Homo sapiens: one gene and its partner. The protein of the gene in region 1 binds, or shares a complex with, the protein of each later gene. Each region holds a gene or a part of one and is shown in the gene's direction. Other genes may lie near its edges.

What was found.
Region 2: the proteins of PDHB (region 1) and PDHA1 are in contact, whole or in part, in a crystal structure (PDB 3EXE), measured with the Homo sapiens proteins. Residues at the interface, in NP_000916.2 of Homo sapiens: Glu59 (codon at 5,959), Gln62 (codon at 5,968), Tyr63 (codon at 5,971), Ala66 (codon at 5,980), Asp84 (codon at 6,117), Pro86 (codon at 6,123), Ile87 (codon at 6,126), Ser88 (codon at 6,129), Glu89 (codon at 6,132), Met111 (codon at 6,950), Phe115 (codon at 6,962), Gln118 (codon at 6,971), Ala152, Gly153, Val154, Ala155, Ala156, Gln157, His158, Pro297, Val323, Arg324, Val325, Thr326, Gly327, Ala328, Asp329, Val330, Met332, Pro333; in NP_000275.1 of Homo sapiens: Ile87 (codon at 3,180), Arg88 (codon at 3,183), Gly89 (codon at 3,186), Phe90 (codon at 3,189), Glu137 (codon at 4,500), Leu138 (codon at 4,503), Thr139 (codon at 4,506), Gly140 (codon at 4,509), Gly148 (codon at 6,207), Lys149 (codon at 6,210), Gly150 (codon at 6,213), Gly151 (codon at 6,216), Met153 (codon at 6,222), His154 (codon at 6,225), Asn164 (codon at 6,255), Gly165 (codon at 6,258), Ile166 (codon at 6,261), Val167 (codon at 6,264), Gly197, Ala198, Asn200, Gln201, Gln203, Gly228, Met229, Gly230, Thr231, Arg235, Ala236, Asp296.

What each region holds. Positions count from the first base shown.
Region 1 is NC_000003.12:58,430,833-58,437,864, reverse strand, and holds the start of PDHB (pyruvate dehydrogenase E1 component subunit beta, mitochondrial isoform 1 precursor), read left to right. Parts: upstream 1-4,032; 5' UTR 4,033-4,055; coding exon 4,056-4,097; exon of another isoform or gene 4,098-4,180; coding exon 4,181-4,234; exon of another isoform or gene 4,235-4,270; intron 4,271-5,880; coding exon 5,881-5,988; intron 5,989-6,071; coding exon 6,072-6,134; intron 6,135-6,236; coding exon 6,237-6,272; intron 6,273-6,922; coding exon 6,923-7,032. UniProt on the Homo sapiens protein: The pyruvate dehydrogenase complex catalyzes the overall conversion of pyruvate to acetyl-CoA and CO(2), and thereby links the glycolytic pathway to the tricarboxylic cycle.
Region 2 is NC_000023.11:19,346,899-19,353,928, forward strand, and holds part of PDHA1 (pyruvate dehydrogenase E1 component subunit alpha, somatic form, mitochondrial isoform 1 precursor), read left to right. Parts: intron 1-2,413; coding exon 2,414-2,473; intron 2,474-3,038; coding exon 3,039-3,212; intron 3,213-4,361; coding exon of another isoform or gene 4,362-4,382; coding exon 4,383-4,509; intron 4,510-6,183; coding exon 6,184-6,275; intron 6,276-7,030. UniProt on the Homo sapiens protein: The pyruvate dehydrogenase complex catalyzes the overall conversion of pyruvate to acetyl-CoA and CO(2), and thereby links the glycolytic pathway to the tricarboxylic cycle.

The sequences.
Region 1 (7,032 bases):
AAAAAGAGCTTATGTGAAAAATAATTATTCTTGCTACACTTTATATAAATAATCAGGCCAAGTATAACAAAGCAAATCAGTCTTACCAAGATTTGCCTTTAGTAAAAATGGGAAACTGGAGAGAGAAATATAATGTTTCAAGAACTTATGGTACACTGGTTATTAGATTCTAGTCTCATCAGTTGTTTTTAAGTTTGTTTCTGCAATTTAGGCTAACCCAGCTTATTCCTGTGAACCAACCAGTGATCTCTGACTGCTGCTCAAAACAAACAAGAGTGATGGTGTCAGGTCTCTGAGCCCAAGCCTGCACGTATTCATTCAGATGGCCTGAAGCAAGTGAAGAATCACAAAAGAACTGAAAATGGCCGGTTCCTGCCTTAACTGGTGACATTACCTTGTGAAATTCCTTCTCCTGGCTCGTCCTGGCTCAGGAGCTCCCCGACTGAGCACCTTGTGACCCCCCACTTCTGCCAGCCAGAGAACAAACCCCTTTGACTGTAATTTTCCACTACCTACCCAAATCCTATAAAACGGCCCCACCGCTATCTTCCTTCGCTGACTCTCTTTTTGGACTCAGCCCGCCTGCACCCAGGTGATTAAAAAGCTTTATTGCTCACATAAAGCCTATTTGGTGGTCTCTTCACATGGACGCGCATGGAAGATGGGTAATGTAAAAATCTGAATCGATATTCTAATTCTGAACACACTGGAATCAGCTAGCAACCCCACATCAGCTTGGTTCCAACAGTTGCCCAGTTCATGGAAAGCCTTCTAATTTAGTTTACTTGGGATAATTTTACTTATTTTGCTTTACTCTTGTGGAATATATTGCTATTGTACTCTTTGTGTAGGAGTGCAGGATAAGCTTACTGAATGTTTTCTTAAACTGAATACTTATTAATCTTCCAGATATCACCTTTTGTCAGAACTTGGAGTTATGAATGGCCCTCACTATACTGATGTTTTCTGAGCTCCTCTCTACTCTGAACATAAGGGACCCTAATAGTTAAGCAGGAATATCATCACCCCTATTCAGCCTGAAGAAGTTACAGAAGATGCATCTTCATCCCTCCGAAACTTTTAGGATTAAAGTTTCTCTCATAATAGGGAGGAGGCAAATGTCAGAGGAATGTGAACCAGAGCAACTCCATCTTGAATAGGAGCTGGGTAAAATGAGGCAGAGACCTACAGGGCTGCATTCCCAGACAGTTAGGCATTCTCAGTCACAGGATGAGATAGGAGGTCAGCACAAGATACAGGTCATAAAGACCTTGCTGATAAAACAGGTTGCAGGAAAGAAGCTGGCCAAAACCCACCAAAACCAAGACGGCGATGAGCATGACCTCTGGTCATCCTCACTGCTACACTCCCACCAGCGCCATGACAGTTTATAAATGCCACGGCAATGTCAAGAAGTTACCCTATATGGTCTAAAAAGGGGAGGCATGAATAATCCACCCCTTGTTTAGTATAAAATCAAGAAATAATCATAAAAATGGGCAATCAGCAGCCCTCAGGGCTGCTCTGTCTATAGAGTAGCCATTCTTTTATTGCTTTACTTTCTTAATAAACTTGCTTTTGCTTTGCACTGTGGACTTGCCCTGAATTCTTTCTTGTGTGAGATCCAAGAACTCTCTCTTGGGATCTCGATCGGGACTGCTTTCCTGTAACATCTCCTTTTGCTTGGCAAATCTGATCCTGAAATCTTTTGGTGCTAGGTTGTGGGAAAGGTGGGAAGGACTGATTCACTTTTTCATTCTGAGCACCACCCACAAACTTTTGGGGGCTGAAATCTCAAGTTCAGGAGTTTCTCAGGGATGCTGTGGCAGTCTAGGAAGTGCTGGCCATTCCTGAGGCCCTGGCAGGGACAGTTGGGACTAGACGATGGTGGCAGGTGAGGGAGACTCAGAAGGTGTTGATTCCATATCTTGAAGATCTTCTATCCATTTTACAGATGAAACAGTCCCAGAGAGTAAATGTCATCTCTATGCAGCTGTCCCCAAATTTCTACCTTTAGCCCTGACTAGGCCCTAGGCTCCAGGCAACCTGGGTATGTCCCAGTCATCTAAAGAATAAAGGCTGGCTGCAGTGGCTCATGCCTGTAATCCCAGCACTTTGGGAGGCTGAGGCGGGTGGATCACTTGAGGTCAAGAGTTCAACATCAGCCTGGTCAACATAGTGAAAACTCATCTCTACTAAAAATAAAAAAAATTAGCCGGGCATGGTGGCAGGTGCCTGTAATCCCAGCTACTCGGGAGGCTGAAGCAGGGGAATAGCTTGAACCTGGGAGGCAGAGGTTGCAGTGAGGCCCACTGCACTTCAGCCTGGGTGACAGAGTGAAACTCCATCTCAAAAAATAAACAAAAATACACTCTTACTTCCCCAGCTCCTGGCACTTACACTGCCCCAGGCTCCTCCCTTACCCCATCTATCCATCCAGCAATGACAAAAATCCAAAATTTTCCTCTGCTCTTCCCTAGCACTTACAGCATTCCTATTGATTCTAGCCCAAATAGATCTCAAAACTGTCCCCCTCCTCTCCATCTGGAAGTTGCCTCCTAGTCTGCCTCTGTTGCTGCCACAGACTTCCCAGCATCCGCCTGTTCTGCCTTTGCCTCCACCCCCTCCCATTCCCAGTCAGCAACCTACTGGAAGTTGCAAATTCCTAATTTGGCAGCCTGCAGCTGTGATCCATAGAAGGGAATGTTTGGAATGTCTTGGGGATGGGTGGAGACTGGGTGCTCAATTGTCCCATCTGACCCCCAAGGGCCAAATTAAGACTAATGAGCTTCCAGAGGTTGTCCCTATGGCCAAGTGTTTGGCACCTCCCCATAAGGGAGGAGACCACCCCTCATATTGTCTTATGCCCAATTTCTGCCTCCAAAGAAAGAAAAAGTAAAAACTAAAAGGCAGAAATGAAATCCACAAACAGACAGCCTGGTGCCACACCCTGGGCCTGGTAAAGATCGACCCCGACCTAATCGGTTATGTTAACTATAGATTACAGACATTGTATAGAAAAGCACTGTGAAAATCCCTATCCTGTTCCAGTCTAATTACCGGTGCTTGCAGCCCCTAGTCACATACCCCCTGCTTGCTCAATCAATCATGACCCTCTCACGCACACCTCCTTAGAGCTGTGAGCCCTTAAAAGGGACAGGAATTGCCCATTCAGGGAGCTCGGCTCTTGAGACAAGAGTCTTGCCCATGCCCCTGGCCGAATAAACCCCTTCCTTCTTTAACTCGGTGTCTGAGGAGTTTCGTCTGCGGCTTGTCCTGCTACATCCATAGGGCCGCCCTTCTCTAAAGTTGTTGTAACCTTCCCCCAAGCAGGAATCCACTTCTGCTTTAGGAAGCAGTGGGAAAAAGACCATGCTTTAGAGTCAAGACAGTCCTAAATTAAAATATCGGCTCATTTAATCAATTTCTGCTTCAGTTTAACCGTCTTCAAAATGGAGATAATAATAACACTAATTACCCAAGTGGGGTACTGTGAGAATGAGCTATACAGCACATATCTCAATGCTTGGCTCACAGTAGGTGCTTAATGCAATCAATGAAAGCTATGATGTGCATTATAAGGAATCAACAGACAGCACTGTCCAGGGAAGACTAGACTCACTCATGAAGTGTTAAGTTCCCCATCAGTAGAGCGTGTGCAAGCACTTCTTGGTGCCCAAAGGATTCCAGCACCCACAACAGGTTGGCCTAACTCTTAAGGTCTCTCCAGCTTCCAGAGATCATGCTCCTCAGGGTCTGACTTCTAGTCCCCACGCTTCAAGTAACACCGACCAGGCACGTGTGCCCAGCGTGCACCCCGCCTGTCGGTCACCGCCTACTGTCAATAAAGTTGATTTGAGGCGGCTCCAGGCAGAGGGGCACGGCCACCCACACGCCACCTCAGCCCGGCCCCGCGGCCCCTCACCCGGTGGGCGGGTGGGCGGGTCACGCAGCCGGCGCGCCTTGCCATTGGCCCGCGCCGGTGGAGGCGGGGCCTGCTCACGTCTGCCGGCCCCTCTGTTGTCGTTTGGCAGCGGATAGAGGACACGACCAAGATGGCGGCGGTGTCTGGCTTGGTGCGGAGACCCCTTCGGGAGGTAGGCAGCAGCGCGCGGCCTGTATTCCCACGCGACCCCTGCCCACCCTGCGTCCCGCCGTCATCTTCCTCTCTCCCTGCCAGGTCTCCGGGCTGCTGAAGAGGCGCTTTCACTGGACCGCGCCGGCTGCGCTGCAGGTAACAGGCGCGGGTGCTCGTCGGACGAGGGCGGGGAGGGTCCCCCCTTCTCTCGGGAAGGAGGCCGGAGTCGCGCCTGCGCTGTGGCCTTCCGGCGCCGTGGGCCTTGGGTTTGCGGAGCCAGCATCCTCCGTGGAGCTCCTGCTGCCTCTGTCGCCGCCTGGCAATTAGCACACCGGCGAGTCACCACCTCACAGCTGGCTGGGCAATGGGGGAAAACTAAGACTAGGCGTTTCCTCCCTCACTCCATGTTTTTTTCTTTAAATTGCAGCAAAATAGACCTAACTTAAAATGTACTTTTTAGAAGTGTATAATTCAGTGGCATTAAGTACATTCACCATGTTGTACAACCATTAACCACCATCCATTTCCAGAACTTTTTAATCATCCCAAGCAGAAACTGTCCATTACTCGGTAACTCCTCATTTCCCTTCCCCAAACCCCTGGTAACCCCTGTTGTACTTTTCTGTCTTTATGAGGTTGCCTATTCTAGAACTTCTTATAAGTGGCATCATTTGTCCTTTTGTGTCTGGCTTATCTCAGCGTAATGTCCTCAAGGTTCATCCATGTTGTAGCATGCGTCAGAGTTTGATTCTTTCCTAAGGCTGAATAATATATATATGTATATTTTTTTGAGATAGTCTCCCTCTGTCACCCAGGTTGGAGTGCAGTGGCGCGATCTCAGCTCACTGCAACCTCCACCTCCTGGGCTCAAGGGATTCTCGCGCCTCACACTCCTGAGTAGCTGTGATTAGATGCCGGTGCCACCACACCGGGCTAATTTTTGTATTTTTAGTACAGACAGGGTCTCACCATATTGCCCAGGCTGGTCTTGAACTCCTGGCCTCAAGTGATCTGCCTGCCTTGGCCTCCCAAAGTGCTAGGATTACAGGCATGAGCCACCTCGCTCAGCCCGACATTTTCTTTTTTTTTTTTGAGACGGAGTTTTGCTCTTGCTGCCCAGGCTAGAGTGCAGTGGCACTATCTCAGCTCACTGCAATCTCTGCCTCCTGGGTTCAAGCAATTCTGCCTCAGCCTCCCGAGTAGCTGGGATTACAGGCACCCGCCACCACACCCGGCCAATTTTTGTATTTTTAGTAGAGAATGGGTTTCACCATGTTGGCCAGGGTGGTCTCGAACTCCTGACCTCAAGTGATCCACCTGCCTTGGCCTCCCAGAGTGCTGGAATTACAGGTGTGAGCCACCGTGCCTGGCCTTGTTTTGTCTATTGTGAGTAATGCTGCTGTGAACATTGATGTGCAAGTATATGCTTGAATCCCTGCTTTCAATTATTTGGGGCATATACATAGAAGTGGAATTGATGGATTGTATGTTAATTCTCCTCTCCTTCCTTTTTTTAACTAGATTTTACCATTCATTATATTAAAAGAGCAACTCCTACATTCTGGATGCAAAGTATTTGGCAGTACTTGGCACCTAGTGAGCACTCAGTACATTAACACATGCAAAGACCAACTATGTGTAATAGAAATGTTACTTTTAGAATTCTTTGAGTTTTTAGAGAGAAGCTTGTTCTAGTGTTTTTATATTGTATGCTGTGGGCAGCCTAGGTAAATATAAAGGAAGAAAATCTTAGTTGAATCCCAAACAATTCTGTATTGACTGTTTTTGCATACCTGTGACAGGTGACAGTTCGTGATGCTATAAATCAGGGTATGGATGAGGAGCTGGAAAGAGATGAGAAGGTATTTCTGCTTGGAGAAGAAGTTGCCCAGTATGATGGGGCATACAAGGTAACTAAAATATATGAAAGTTATACAAAATTGAGGTCACTGTTACCCCCAGATACACTTAAGGGATCAACTCTTAATTGTAGGTTAGTCGAGGGCTGTGGAAGAAATATGGAGACAAGAGGATTATTGACACTCCCATATCAGAGGTAAGCCTTCCAGTGGGAAGCAGACCCTGGAGGGCATGTCTGTTAGTGTCCATTATCCTCATTTTTATGGATTTTCACTTATGTTTATATTTTACTTTATAGATGGGCTTTGCTGGAATTGCTGTAGGTGCAGCTATGGTATGTAATACTCTTTATGAAACTTATCCAAAGACATTTCTTGTTTTCTTTTTTTTTCTTTTGAGACAGAGTCTCACTCTGTTGTCCAGCCTGGAGTGCACTGGCACCATCTCAGCTTCCAGGTTCAAGCAATTCTCCTGCCTCAGCCTCCATAGTGGCTGGGGTTACAGGTCGCGCCACTGTGCCTAGCCAATTTTTGTGTTTTTAGTAGAGATGGGGTTTTACCATGTTGGCCAGGCTGGTCTTGAACTCCTGGCCTCAAGTGATCCGACCGCCTTGGCCTCCCAAAGTGCTGGGATTACAGGCGTGAGCCACTGTGCCCATCCCCAAAGAGATTTAACATCACCTTTTAAAAACATCATTTGGGAAAAAAAAAAAATACCAAGTAGGTAGATGTGGTGGTGCTTGCCTGCAGTCCCAGCTACTCGGGATGCTGAGGAAGGATTACTTGAGCCTAGGAGTTAGAGGCTGCAGTGAGCTATGATGTGTGCCACTGCACTCCAGCATGGGTGACAGTGAGACCCTGTCCATAAAAAATAAAAATAAAAAATAAAAACATTATTTGAATGTTGGAAGACTTGGAGTGATTTGTTTGCTACTGTTTGTTGCTGTTTCTAGTCTTTTTAACATCCACGTTTTTGATTTTACAGGCTGGGTTGCGGCCCATTTGTGAATTTATGACCTTCAATTTCTCCATGCAAGCCATTGACCAGGTTATAAACTCAGCTGCCAAGACCTACTACATGTCTGGTGGCCTTCA
Region 2 (7,030 bases), on another chromosome or scaffold:
ATTTTTGAAACGTTTTTCCTCTTTCACATGAATGGTTCCTATGTATTTAGGAAGTTAAAGTTTTACTTTTTTTTAATTAATTTTTTTTTTTAGGCTGGAATGCAGTGGCACAGTCATAGCTCACTGTAGCCTCAGGTGTGTGCCACCATACCTGACTAATTTTTTAATATTTATTTTTGTAGAGATGAGAGTCTCATGTTGCCCAGGCTGGCTTTGAACTCCTGGCTTCAAGTGGTCCTCCCACCCTGGCCTCCCAAAGTGCTGGGGATTATAGGTGTGAGCCATCATGCCCGGCCTAGTTTTTATTTTTTAAAATTTGAGTGGGTTGTTCGTGGTCTCTGTCAGAGAGGAATCCCATTTAACAGAGAATCTTTTTATGGCTCTCCAGAGAAAATGAATGGTAAACTTATCTTTTCAACAAGCTCTCACTCAGAAATGATACACACACACTTCTGATAGGACTTTTAGCTTCTTTAACTTTGTTCCTTTCACTCATATCAGTGGTTCTTATTTTTGAGATACACAGTAATGAAGCCATGGGAGAAAGTATCTAAGTAGCTTTCTGGCAGTCCTAATCTTTGCAGGCGCAAGATTACAGGCGCATGCCACAGCACTGGGCCCCTTCTTGCTCTTTATTGTATAGCATTATCCTGCCTCATTGTTTCAACTCTAGGATTGAGAAAGAAGTTACCTTTTCTCTGTTACTGTCGCCTGGCTGGTTTGGACTCCTGCCTTCCAAAAACTGCAGTTTCTGTAGTTGTATTTGGAAATTTATTTCACAATACAATAAATTTCTGGCCCCACAAAATATTTATTAACTGCCAAGAATAACACATCTGTTTGATTGCTAAATATAACCATTGATTTGCTGTTTCACCTTCTCTCAGCTTTACTTCTTCCCAAATTCCTAAATTTCCTTCACTTTTTCTGAGATACATTAGTGGACTGTCTCTGCCTGTAAGTTAACTGAAACACTGATTCCTAGTATTTCAGTTGTTTTCCTCCAGCACTGTCATTGTCTGTGTTTGTTGGCTTTGTCCAATAATGGTCTATTGAGGGGTGAAGATATACGTAATTAGCTTTCTGCCTATTGGCTTGTACACTCCAGGGTATACTTGGCAGATCAGTCTTAACTCTTCTCACCAAGATCAGTCCAGTGCTGGATTAGGTAAGGTATGAACACATCAGATGTGCTTTTTATGGAGAAATCATGTTGGTTTACACGTCAGTGTGTGAGAATGTGGCAGAAGGGAGCTAAAATAGTATGATAATACTACTGGATAAATTTTGTGGTCTAACCTAAACCTTAGCCATTACATAGAATACTTTTGCTGTGAGCAGGTTTGCTCAGTTGTAAAACTGGAAAGGAATCATTTCTCACCCCCCGCCTCCAAGCTTTTTACCTCCAAACAGTGACAGCCACCCAAACATCAAGAGAACAGTGTTTCAGAGAACATTTCTACTGGGGCTTCAGGAGGAGCCTGTCCAAGATTTAGGCTGTTCAAATTATAAATTATAAAACAGCTGGCTCAAGCCCATTGTGTTTAAGTCAGAGAGTGCTAAGTATCTTTTCTTTTGTCTTGTCTCCCTAAAGTATTTATCTCATACTTCAATCAATTTAAAATATTTTTTCTTACAGATCCAATTTGATAGAAGAGTCAAGTTTGCCTAGAGTGGAGATTAAATCATAGTTTTATTTGAAGTATAATTTTGGCTTGCTCAAAATGAACAGTATCTGGTTATGACTAAGAATGGCATGAAAAGGCCAGACGCAGTGGCTCATGCCTGCAATCCCAGTACTTTGGGAGGCCAAGGCAGGTGGATCACCTGAGGTCAGGAGTTGGAGACCAGCCTGGCCAACATGGTGAAACCCCATCTCTACTAAAAATATAAAAATTAGCCGGGCGTGGTGGTGGGCACCTGTAATCCCAGCTACTCGGGAGACTGAGACAGGAGAAATCACTTGAACCCGGGAAGCGGAGGTTGCAGTGAGCCGAGATCGCACCACTGCACTCCAGCCTGGGTGATAAAAGCAAAACTCCGTCTCAAAACAAACAAACAAAAGAATGGCATAAACAGACACAGCTCACAGATGATCTAGTCTCTTTAGCCACTAATTTCATTATATTCTCACTATAATTTCTTTGAAAACAAAGGATGGGTTTGTTTTTTGCCCCTCTTTGCGCTGCTTGCCTTCAGATGCGGGATAATCCTGTTTCATTGGCCAAAGCATGGATTCATTTTGGAGGCCAAGGAAGATGCAAACACAGTGCACAGGGTGGAAGAGAAGCCTATGAATATGTTGGGGCTTATTAAATTTCCATAACTTCATTCTGATAACTGATTATTATACTTTCCAAAATAGCTGACAATTAAAAAGTACTGATTTGTTTGTATATTTTTGTCTTTTAAGGCAAGCAGAGTGCTGGTAGCATCCCGTAATTTTGCAAATGATGCTACATTTGAAATTAAGGTAAGAGGTGTTTTACTTTGTTAATAATTTTTTCACAGGTACACTCTGATATACAGTTTTACCTTTAGAATAGAACATTTTGATGTTCATGCTTAGTCATCATTTTCTTCTAAATGTTCCAGGATCAGAAGTTCAGAGAAGCTTCACGAAAACTAGAATTTATTATTAGCAGCTTGCTGTTGTTCTGTGGGGGGAAGGGGGAGGAGCTAGAAAATGAAAATAAAAATAAAAGCTTATTCAAAAGTTTGGAATGTAATTCAGTGAAATATTTGAATAAGAAGAGTCTTAGTTGTTTCTTTGAAGGTTCTTTCAACCTATAACTCAGTTGGCTTCTAGGGGCTTTCAGTGAAAATCATCTTAGAAAGATTTCCTTCCCCCAAGCCCCATCTCATTGCACAGTGAGGTTTATGGATTTAAGGAACAGAGGCGATATGAAGCATTACTGATGTGCTCCTTTGCAGTTTTTCAAGTTCAATATTATTTGCAATGGAGTTAGATCTTAGAGTGGTCAACAGTGTTTGCAATGTAGTATGTGGAGGATAATAACTACCTTATTCCATTTCAGAAATGTGACCTTCACCGGCTGGAAGAAGGCCCTCCTGTCACAACAGTGCTCACCAGGGAGGATGGGCTCAAATACTACAGGATGATGCAGACTGTACGCCGAATGGAGTTGAAAGCAGATCAGCTGTATAAACAGAAAATTATTCGTGGTTTCTGTCACTTGTGTGATGGTCAGGTGAGTGGTAGGTTTGTGGTGGAACTGTGTTATTTAGGTACTGAAGTATGGCTTGTACTTATTGGGCTTTACCCTGCCATATGTATCAGAAGAGTTTGAGGCTGGTAATGTAATTTTCTTTTATTTATTTATTTTTTTGAGACAGTCTCTCTCTGTCGCCCAGGTTAGAGTACAGTGGTGATCTTGGCTCACTGCAGCCTCTGGTTAGAGTACAGTGTGATCTTGGCTCACTGCAGCCTCTGTCCACTGGGCTCAAGCAATCCTCCCACCTCAGCCTCCCGAGTATGTGGGACCACAGGTGCACACCAACACACCCAGCTAATTTTTGTATTTTTTGGAGATACGGGGTTTCACTATGTTGCCCAGGCTAGTCTCAAACTTCTGGGCTCAAGTGGTCCGCCCACCTTGGCCTCCCAAGGTGCTAGGATTACAGGCGTGAGCCACTGTGCCTGGCTGAAGCCAGTATTTTAGAATTAAAAAGTAGAATGCCAAAACCTGCTATGAAGCTTAGGCTAAAGAATTCATTCACACATAACATTGCCAGTTTTCTGTACCTGTTCTTAGAGTTTTACTATTTTAAAACTTTCTGGCACTATGATCGCCTGTACTGTATATAATTTGGAGAGAAAGGATTAGTTTGTTTTTTGTTTTGTGGGCTTAGGTCAAGGGTTAGAGTCAAATACCTACAAGGGCCAGCCAGGTAGAATAAATGAGTGAAGAAGGCTAGGTATACAAAACAGAAAATGGTGACAGGGACTCATGCTGAACTGGCACCAGCATGCCCTACCCAGAGGAATGCCATGACTTGGTTCCAGCCAGTTGGTGCCATGTGGAAATCAGGGGTAATGTTTCCTGTTTTCCATGTCTAAGAGAAGGCGGAAGTCTGGATTTTCATGTGAAATTCCCCAGTGTTTTAATGTTGACATCTGATGTAGGCTTTTCTTTTAGGTCATCATACAGGAGAAAGGAAGGAAGTGGCACATGTGTGGGTTGCCAGTTTATTGCTTCTGGTTTGGGCCTTCCACTCTGTATTTTGGTGGAAAATAGCTACTTTCTCTGGTTATTAATGACAGGTTCTACTAGCCCACATATTTCACTGTGGTCTAGGAAACGTTTTTATTTAGAAACATGTATCATATTGCCTCATAGTTTCTCCTTCCTCTAACACAGGAAGCTTGCTGTGTGGGCCTGGAGGCCGGCATCAACCCCACAGACCATCTCATCACAGCCTACCGGGCTCACGGCTTTACTTTCACCCGGGGCCTTTCCGTCCGAGAAATTCTCGCAGAGCTTACAGGTTTGCTGTTGATTTACAGAAAGGGGAAATGAGTGGATTAAGTTTTTAAATATCTGTCATTAAGATGCTATTATGAGTTAATATTTGTTAAAAATTTTAAGTTTCTTTTTTTAACCCTCTCTCCTTTGGTGCTCTGGTACTTCTGTTGTGCTCTTGAGTTAACTGACCATTTGTGAAGTTCTCTGGCCCCTCAGGTAAAAGTTTAAAACAGGTTGGTGCTATAAAATCACAGTAGGTTTGGTTATCATTCAAGCATGCCAGAAGAAGTCTAGCAGTCATAGAAAGTAAGTTCGGTTGAAGCACTCCATGGTATGCAATGTAAATTCTAGAAATCTTCTTAATATTCCCCTTTTCTTTGTCCCCCGTGACTATTTGTTTGTTTTGGTGGTTTTTTTTTTTTTTTTTTTTTGAGACTGTGTCTCACTCCGTTGTCCAGGCTGGTGTGCAGTGGTGTGATCACGGCTCACTGCAACCTCCACCTCCCGGGTTCAAGTGATTCTCATGCCTCCACCTCCTGAGTAGCTGGGACTACAGGCATGCACCACCACACCTGGCTAATTTTTGTATTTTTAGTAGAGATGGGGTTTCAACATGTTGGCCAGGCTGGTCTCCAACTCCTGACCTCAGGTGATCCACCTGCCTTGGCCTCCCAAAGTGTGCTGGGGTTACAGGCGTGAGCCACCGCACCTGGCCTGTTTTGTTTTTTTGAGACAGAGTCTCGCTTTGTTGCCCAGGCTGGAGTGCAGTGGCCTGCCTCAGCCTCCCAAAATGCTAGGATTACAGGCGTGAGCCACTGTGCCCGGTCCTCCTCCTCCTCCTTTTTTTTTTTTTTTTTTGAGACAGAGTTTCACTCTTTCACCCAGGCTGGAGTGGCTGGAGTGAAGTGGTATGATTTTGGCTCACTGCAGCCTCCGCCCCCCGGGTTCAAGCAATTCTCCTGCCTCAGCCTCCTGAGTAGCTAGGATTATAGGTGCCCAACCACCACACCTGGCTAATTTCTGTATTTTTAGTAGAGACCAGGTTTCACCATGTTGGCCAGGCTGGTCTTGAACTCTTGACCTCAGGTGATCCACCCTCTTCGGCCTCCCAAAATGTTAGGATTACAGGCGTGAGCCGCCGTGCCCGGCCCTCCTTGACTCTTGAACTATGGTTGTCCCTCTATATATCCAGGGGATTGGTTCTAGGACCCTCGAGTATACAAAAATCCTCAAATACTCAAGTCCCAAAGTCAGCCTTCCATATCTTCGGGTTTGCATCCTGAGAATATTCTATTTTCAATACATGTGTGGCTGAAAAAAAATCTGTGTATAAGTGTACCTGTGCAGTTCAAACCCTGTTCAAGGATTGAATATATTTAGTGTACTAGTATAGGAGAGGTCCTAAGATGTTTGTAACTGGCCAGAAAACCCAGAAAAGTCCAGGGTATCATCTGGATGGAACATCTGAAGGAAACTAAGTGACTAGAGAGTAGGAAAAGCTGGAAAGGTTGAAGCACATGGAACTAGTGAAAGGACAAGGAGAAACATGTGTTTGCCTGGAGGGACAGGTACTTAGACGACTGAACTGGCCTCTGTGTTCTAATGGTTGAGCCTCAGAGTACATATTTGGGGTGCGGTTTGGTTTGCTTTGTAGAGTTGGTTTGTTCTGCACATGTGTATGTTCTGCCATTTCCAGGACGAAAAGGAGGTTGTGCTAAAGGGAAAGGAGGATCGATGCACATGTATGCCAAGAACTTCTACGGGGGCAATGGCATCGTGGGAGCGCAGGTAGTCAAGGACGAGGATTGTGTGCTGCTTTAGATTTGGCCCTGGACTTTGTCTTCAAAAACTTTCACAGCCCCAGACAACTTTTCCTGAAGTAGTACAGCCATGTGCTGCACAGTGACGCTTTGGTCAATGTCGCATATATGATGTTGGACCCATAAGATTATAATGGAGCTGAAAAATTCCTGTCGCCTAGTGATGTTGTAGTGGCACAACACATTACCTTTTCTACGTTTAGGTACACAAATATTTTGCCTACAGGATTCAGTAGAGTCACATGCTGTGCAGGGTTGTAGCCTAGGAGCAGTAGGCTCTACTATACAGCCTAGGTGTGCAGTGGGCTGTACCATCTAGGTTCGTGCATTACAGTATGGTGTTCACATGACAAAATCGCCTAGTGATGCAATTCTGAGAATATATCCCTGTTGTTAAGTGACGCGTGACTATTTTGGGGGCTTGGTTTGCTTTTAAAGACCTAGTGCTTCATATCCTACCGTTTGAGAGATGAGTAGATTTGGATGGTGATTTATAATGTTTCCTTTTAGGTGTCTGCTGTTTTATAAGTAAGCAGGAACCTCTAGCAGTGGAGCCATACCTTCCCCTTCCTATTTATATTTCAGTACATTAATTGCTTTATCTTGTCAACTTCATTTTGGGGTCCTTGTTCTCATCAGTTAGTGAATGATGAAGAATTAACAGCACAAAATTATATCCGGACTGTTTCTTTTCCTTTCTAATATATTAAGATTCTATTATGT